2 linked regions of the Homo sapiens genome follow. The protein of the gene in region 1 purifies or fractionates together with the protein of each later gene. This does not show direct contact. Each region holds a gene or a part of one and is shown on either strand. Other genes may lie near its edges. The genes, in order: ADCK5 and ZMPSTE24.

Evidence for each region.
Region 2: the proteins of ADCK5 (region 1) and ZMPSTE24 purify together in Homo sapiens (affinity purification with mass spectrometry; one large-scale study listed by BioGRID and IntAct). This does not show direct contact.

What each region holds. Positions count from the first base shown.
Region 1 is NC_000008.11:144,387,395-144,391,213, forward strand, and holds part of ADCK5 (uncharacterized aarF domain-containing protein kinase 5), read left to right. Parts: intron 1-1,868; exon of another isoform or gene 1,869-1,942; intron 1,943-3,276; coding exon 3,277-3,352; intron 3,353-3,461; coding exon 3,462-3,662; intron 3,663-3,739; coding exon 3,740-3,819. UniProt on the Homo sapiens protein: The function of this protein is not yet clear. It is not known if it has protein kinase activity and what type of substrate it would phosphorylate (Ser, Thr or Tyr).
Region 2 is NC_000001.11:40,288,924-40,291,964, forward strand, and holds part of ZMPSTE24 (CAAX prenyl protease 1 homolog), read left to right. Parts: intron 1-1,930; coding exon 1,931-2,074; intron 2,075-3,041. UniProt on the Homo sapiens protein: Transmembrane metalloprotease whose catalytic activity is critical for processing lamin A/LMNA on the inner nuclear membrane and clearing clogged translocons on the endoplasmic reticulum.

The sequences.
Region 1 (3,819 bases):
TTTGTTTGTTTCTTTATTTATTTATTGAGACAGTCTTGCTCTGTCACTCAGGCTGGAGTACAGTGGCAACATCTTGGCTCACTTCAGCCTCTGCCTCCTGGGTTCAAGCAATTCTCCCAGCCCCAGTCTCCCCAGTAGCTGGGATTACAGACACCTGCCACCACACCCAGCTAATTTTTTTTTAATTTTTAGTAGAGATGGGGTTTCTCCATGTTGGCCAAGCTGGTCTTGAATTCCTGACCTTAAGTGATCCATCTGTCTCAGCCTCCCAAAGTGCTGGGATTATAGGCATGAGCCACTGCGCCTGGCCTCCACCCAGCAGTTTAGCACTCATTGATACTTTTTTTTTTTTTTGAGACAGAGTTTCACTCTTGTTGCCCAGGCTGGAGTGCAATGGTGGGATCTCCGCTCACTGCAACCTCCACCTCCTGGATTCAAGCGATTCTCCTGCCTCAGCCTCCTTAGTAGCTGGGGATTACAGGCACACGCCACCACACCCAGCTAATTTTGTATTTTTTAGTAGAGGCGGGTTTCTCTGTGTTGGTCAGACTGGTCTTGAACTCCTGACCTCAGGGGATCCGCCCGCCTTGGCCTCCCAAAGTGCTGGGATTATAGGTGTGAGCCACCACACCCGGCCTCCAACATTTTGTGAAAAACTTCAAACATACAGCAATGTTGAAAATGCTCTGTGAGGCAATGTGAAATGCAATGTGAAAATGCTTTGGGAGGCCGAGGAGGGCGGATCACGAGGTCAGGAGTTCGAGACCAGCCTGACCAACGTGGAGAAACCCCATCTCTACTAAAGATAGAAAAATTAGCTGGGCATGTGGTGGGCACCTGTAGTCCCAGCTCCTCGGGAGGCTGAGGCGGGAGAATTGCTTGAACCTGGGAGGCGGAGGTTGCAGTGAGCCTAGACTGTGCCACTGCACTCCAGTCTGGGCGACAGAGCGAGATTCCATCTCAAAAAAAAAAAAAAAATTAAATTCCTTCTCCCCCAAGCACAAGTCTGTGGGACTTTTTCACATCTTTAAGTTTTGTTACAAAAGTGTTGTGTTTACTATAACAAATTTTAATAGTAGAAAAGTTAGAGCCGGGCACGGTGGCTCACGCCTGTAATCCCAGCACTTTGGGAGGCCAAGGTGGGCGGATCACGAGGTCGGGAGATCGAGACCATCCTGGCCAACACGGTGAAACCCCATCTCTACTAAAAATACAAAAAAATTAGCCGGGCGTGGTGTTGGGCGCCTGTAGTCCCAGCTACTCTGGAGGCTGAGGCAGGAGAACGGCGTGAACCTGGGAGGCGGAGCCTGCAGTGAGCCAAGATCGCCACCACACTCCAGCCTGGGCGACAGAGCGAGACTCCGTCTCCAAAAAAAAAAAAAAAGAAACCGAAACCCTGGCCTAACCCAAGCACGCACTCCAGATGCTCTACGGGGGCCAGAGTGGGGCCTGAATGGCCGGGGGGTCGCCCTGGGTTGATGGGGGACACAGAGTCCACCTGAGCGCCAGAGCTGCGCTTCAGGAATGACTGTGGGCCCTGTCCCCAGGCAGGTACGTGAGCTTCACAGAACGCAGGGACAGGCCTCTGGCCATGGCCAGCCTTGGAGAAGCCACTCTGACCTCAGCCCCTCCCTGTGCACCTGTGTGTGGTCTGCCCGCTGCCTGGCGCCTCATTCCAGGGCTGCCCAGCTGGTCCCCAGAGTTCTCCCAGGGCTCCCACCCTGATATCCTCCTAACTGGGGCCAGGCCTGGGGACACCCCTCTACCCCATCCTCTTGCCTAAATCTCCCCCAGGAGCCCAGTACCTGCTCAACAGATACCCAGGATGTCCCCCACTTCCTGCCTTAACTGGGCTCTCTTCCCTGCAGACCTTGCCTCCCCAGGCCTTGGAGACCCACCCTCCTGGTGTCCTCCTCTCTTCCTAGTGGACCTCAGGCTGCAGGTGACCTTGACCCTCCTGTGACCTCTGCTGCCTCAGCCCTGCCCCCTTGCTGCCATCCTTTACCTTCACAGACAGCCTTGGAACCCCATCTCTCCAGAGGATGCCACCGTCCATACTGTCCCCTACCCCATCTCACCTGGGCACCCTTGAGGGTGGCAGGGAGTGAGGGTGGCATGGACACAGGCTGCCCATTCTGCAGATCTTTTTTTGTTTTTTGAGACGGAGTCTCGCTCTGTCGCCAGGCTGGAGTGCAGTGGCGCAATTTTAGCTCACCGAAACCCGCCTCCTGACTTCAAGTGATTCTCCTGCCTCAGCCTCCTGAGTAGCTGGCACTACAGGCACGCACCACCATGCCCAGCTAATTTTTGTATTTTTAGTAGAGACTAGGTTTCACCATGTTGGTCAGGATGGCCTCAATCTCTTGACTTTGTGATCTGCCCGCCTCGGCCTCCCAAAGTGCTGGGATCATAGGTGTGAGCTACCAAGCCCAGCCTCTTTTTTTTTTTTTTGAAACCGAGTTTCGCTCTTGTTGCCCAGGCTGGAGTGCAATGGCGCGATCTTGGCTCACTGCAACCTCTGCCTCTCGGGTTCAAGCAATTCTCCTGCCTCAGTCTCCCGAGTAGCTGGGATTACAGGTGTGCACCACCACACCCGGCTAATTTTTTTGTATTTTAAGTAGAAATGGGGTTTCACCATGTTGGCCAGGCTGGTCTTGAACTCCTGACCTCTGGTGATCCACTCACCTCGGCCTCCCAAAGTGCTGGGATTACAGGCGTGAGCCACTGTGCCCAGCTCTGCAGATCTTTTTTGGACGGAGTCTCGCTCTGTTGCCCAGGCTGGGGTGCAGTGGTGCAATCTCAGCTTACTGCAGTCTCCACCTCCTAGGCTCAAACGATCCTCCTGCCTCAGCTTCCTGAGGAGCTGGGACCACAGGTGTGCACCACCGTGCCTGCCTAATTTTTTTGCATTTTTGGTAGAGACAGGGTTTCAACATGTTGCCCAGGCCAGTCTCGAACTCCTGAGCTCAAGTGATCCTCCCAGCACAGCCTCCCAATGTGATGGGATAATTGACATGAGCCACCACACCTGGCCCCGTTCTACTGATCTTGAGCTGAGACTGACCTGCAGGGCCACAGGACACCCCACGAGCTCAGCAGCACCCCTTGTGCTCACACAGGCCTACGCGGCTGTAGGCTGGACCCTGGCTTGGCCTCACCCTTGGGACATGAAGGGCTGGCCGGGGTGAGGCTAGACCATGAGGGCTCTGACAAGAGGACCAAGCACCGGGGCCCCGAGCCTGCCCCGCTGGAGACTGAGGCCACCTCTGCCCGCAGGTCTCTGAAGGTCGGCCTGCAGATCTCCCTGGACTACTGGTGGTGCACCAATGTTGTCCTTCGAGGGGTGGAAGAGGTTTGTCCTGGTGCCCTGGGCACACAGTGGTGGGCATGAGGTGGTGGGCTGGGTGGGACTGAGGAGGCAGCCACCTGTCCCCATGTGTTCTCCCCATGCCTGTGGTCAGAACAGCCCAGGCTACTTGGAGGTGATGTCTGCGTGTCACCAGCGGGCGGCTGATGCCCTGGTGGCAGGGGCCATCAGCAACGGGGGCCTCTACGTGAAGCTGGGCCAGGGGCTGTGCTCCTTCAACCACCTGCTTCCCCCCGAGTATACCCGGACCCTGCGCGTGCTAGAGGACAGGGCCCTCAAGCGGGGCTTCCAGGAGGTGAGTGTGCGCTCAGGCCGAGGGAGGTGGGGCCTCCAGCAGTGGCCCCAGGCTGCTCTGAGCACCTGTCCTTCCAGGTGGATGAGTTGTTCCTTGAGGACTTCCAGGCCCTCCCCCACGAGCTCTTCCAGGAGTTTGACTACCAGCCAATTGCTGC
Region 2 (3,041 bases), on another chromosome or scaffold:
CACCTTAAAGTTCACCTCACCGAGAGTAATTCCCTTCACCACTGCCTTCCAAGACCATCCCTGAGTGGCTCTGTAATACCACAGCAGTCCACTTTCATCTGGTGCCAGCATATTGTATTAAGTTATTGTAAAATAGGCTCTGATTTTGTTCCTGTTCAACTAATTGATTATAGGGAACAGCATATGAGTAAGGGTTGGTTGAGGGTTGTTGGTGGTAGGAGTTGGTGTACTAGAGTATGAGCCATCTGCTTATTTAACTTACTGGTGCCTTCATAACTTGCTTCATTTCCACTCTTATATCTACCACTTGTCCTTGATGATGAAGTGCTTCTGCGCATAGCAGTTTCCTGGCTAGGCAGATTAACAGATTAACATAGCACCCAGTTCAGAAGGGATAGTTCAGTTTGCAGGATCACAGTATCCCATGGCCAGGAATTCAGTCTGTAGTAGGGCCCAGTAGCAAACCAAAAGTTATTTTTCAAAAGGACAATGGTTACTTGACAAAAGTGGATGCATAGATTATAAGTGTAGGAGACTTCACTGAGTTTTCTGTTGGAGCTTGTCATATTGGATCCACTGAGTTATAAGGATGAGTGTCGAAGCTGCTTGTCCTGGGGCAGCTGGTGAGCCTTCTTATGCTCTAAGCCCCATTCTAAGCTGACAGCTTCTTGGGTCATCTCGTTTGGGTCAAATGGTTTGAAGCAACACACTTAAATAAGGTACATGTGGCCTCCAAGATCCTAATTTGCACAGAAAAAGAATGTTGTGTGTTCTCCAACCTTACTCCAAGAGGTTGTATTTTGGTATAGATTTTTTATTTTTTTCTCCTCTCATTTATTGATCAAGATGGATCTACTTTTCCCCCTGACCTTTCTAACTATCTGGTACAGCTCCAGTGGGCCTAGAGAGGATTCAAGGGAAGCCTGTTTCTTTGGAGCCTCCGCTTCAAAGTCAGGTGGGAGGCGTTGTATCTGATTACAGTGTTATAAAACAAGGCCAGAATCCATTCTAGCCCTTCACCCTTTTACAGAGAGAAAATATCCCATTGCTATTGACCACTTCAAACCCTCAATGATAGGAGCCTCAACTTAAGCTTGCCCTTATAGAAAATGATACAGTTTATACATTTGGGAACATTTTATTTTACTTTTGAAATAAAAGTGAAACTAAAAACTACTGGCGGGGCAGTATGGTTCATGCCTGTAATCCCAGCACTTTGGGAGGCCCAGGTGGGTGGATCATCTGAGGTCAGGAGATTGAGACCATCCTGGCTAACACAGTGAAACCCCGTCTCTTCTAAAAATACAAAAAATTAGCCGGGCATGGTGGGGGGCGCCTGTAGTCCCAGCTACTCGGGAGGCTGAGGCAGGGGAATGGCGTGAACATGGGAGGCGGAGCTTGCAGTGAGCCGAGATCGTGCCACTGAGCTCCACCCTGGGCGACAGAGTGAGATCTGTCTCAAAAAAAGCTACTTAAATAATTTGTTCTGTGATCACACTAATACCTTTCTTAAAATCACACTATGAATTTTTTTTTTTTTTTTTTTTTTTTTTTTGAGATGGAGTCTCACTCTGTTGCCCAGGCTGGAGTGCAGTGGCGCCATTTCAGCTCACTGCAAGCTCCGCCTCCCGGGTTCACGCCATTCTCCTGCCTCAGCCTCCCGAGTAGCTGGGACTACAGGCATCCGCCACCACGTCCGGCTAATTTTTTCTGCATTTTTAGTAGAGACGGGGTTTCACCATGTTAGCCAGGATGGTCTCAATCTCCTGACCTCGTGATCCACCCGCCTTGGCCTCCCAAAGTGCTGGGATTACAGGCGTGAGCCACCGCGCCCGGCCACACTGTGATTTCTTATACTTTATGGATGCTACTGATCCCATAGTGAAATCAGCTTGGTAATAACTTAGAAATTTCATGTCCTTCTTTCTAGATGAATTCTTTCCTGTGTTTTTTTTTATTTGCTGTATTAATTGGTCGAAAGGAGCTTTTTGCTGCATTTGGTTTTTATGATAGCCAACCCACTCTTATTGGACTATTGATCATCTTCCAGTTTATTTTTTCACCTTACAATGAGGTAATGTATGATCTTTAAAATTATCACACATATGCTCTTGCCTGCTTCAAATCTAGAGCTTTCAGGATAGTGAAAAAGGAAATAGAACAGTACAGTTTTAACAAATAGATGAAACAAAGTCTTTTAGTCCCCTGATTCACTGGTCAGTATGACAAAGTAGCAGAAAAATTCAAGCCCAAATAAATAAACGTTTGCATACTCTTAGGAAAGTATAAGTAGAAAACTAGACTTCAGTGGTGAACACCTAAAAGGACTCGGTAGATGGAGATTAACTATTGGAATGTTGTGTCCTAGGCCACATATTCACCAGTGCTTGGGTAAAAATCTTATGTGTATGAGGGGACAAAGCAAACACTAATTGGTACAGCTCAGTAAGGGAGGCTTAGTGACTGTTCCTCTGCTCCATGACCACCTGCCTCCATATAGCCTGAGGGATCCACCCAAACCCACAAAATCAAAATCGGGTATTTTGTGGTAAATGAAACTTAAGAACATTGCTCTGTGTTAGCTCATTAGGGGTATTCCGTGTGAGTGATAATACATAGGTTAATGTGAGACTATATAACAAACCTGACAATGGCATCATTTCATGATGTTTGGTAAGGCTTCCAAATTAAGCTAAGAAATAATATTGAAGATCTTGAGGTATCTCCATTCAGAAGAATTCTTTCTTGGGATAGATTGTAGAGTTAAGATGAGCTAAATGAATTATATTTTTCTATTATGTATGGTGGGGACACCAGGAAAGAAAAATGGAGGGGCATAGATCATATTCATATAGCATTGTCCACATAAACAAAAATAAATTTGGCAGAGAACTGAGATGTATTATCTTAAAACTCTTTTTTTTTTTTTTTTTTTAAGATGGAGTCTCGCTCTGTCTCCCAGGCTGGAGTGCAGGGGTGTCATCTTGGCTCACTGCAACCTCCGCCTCCCGGGTTCAAGCAATTCTCCTGCCTCAGCCTCC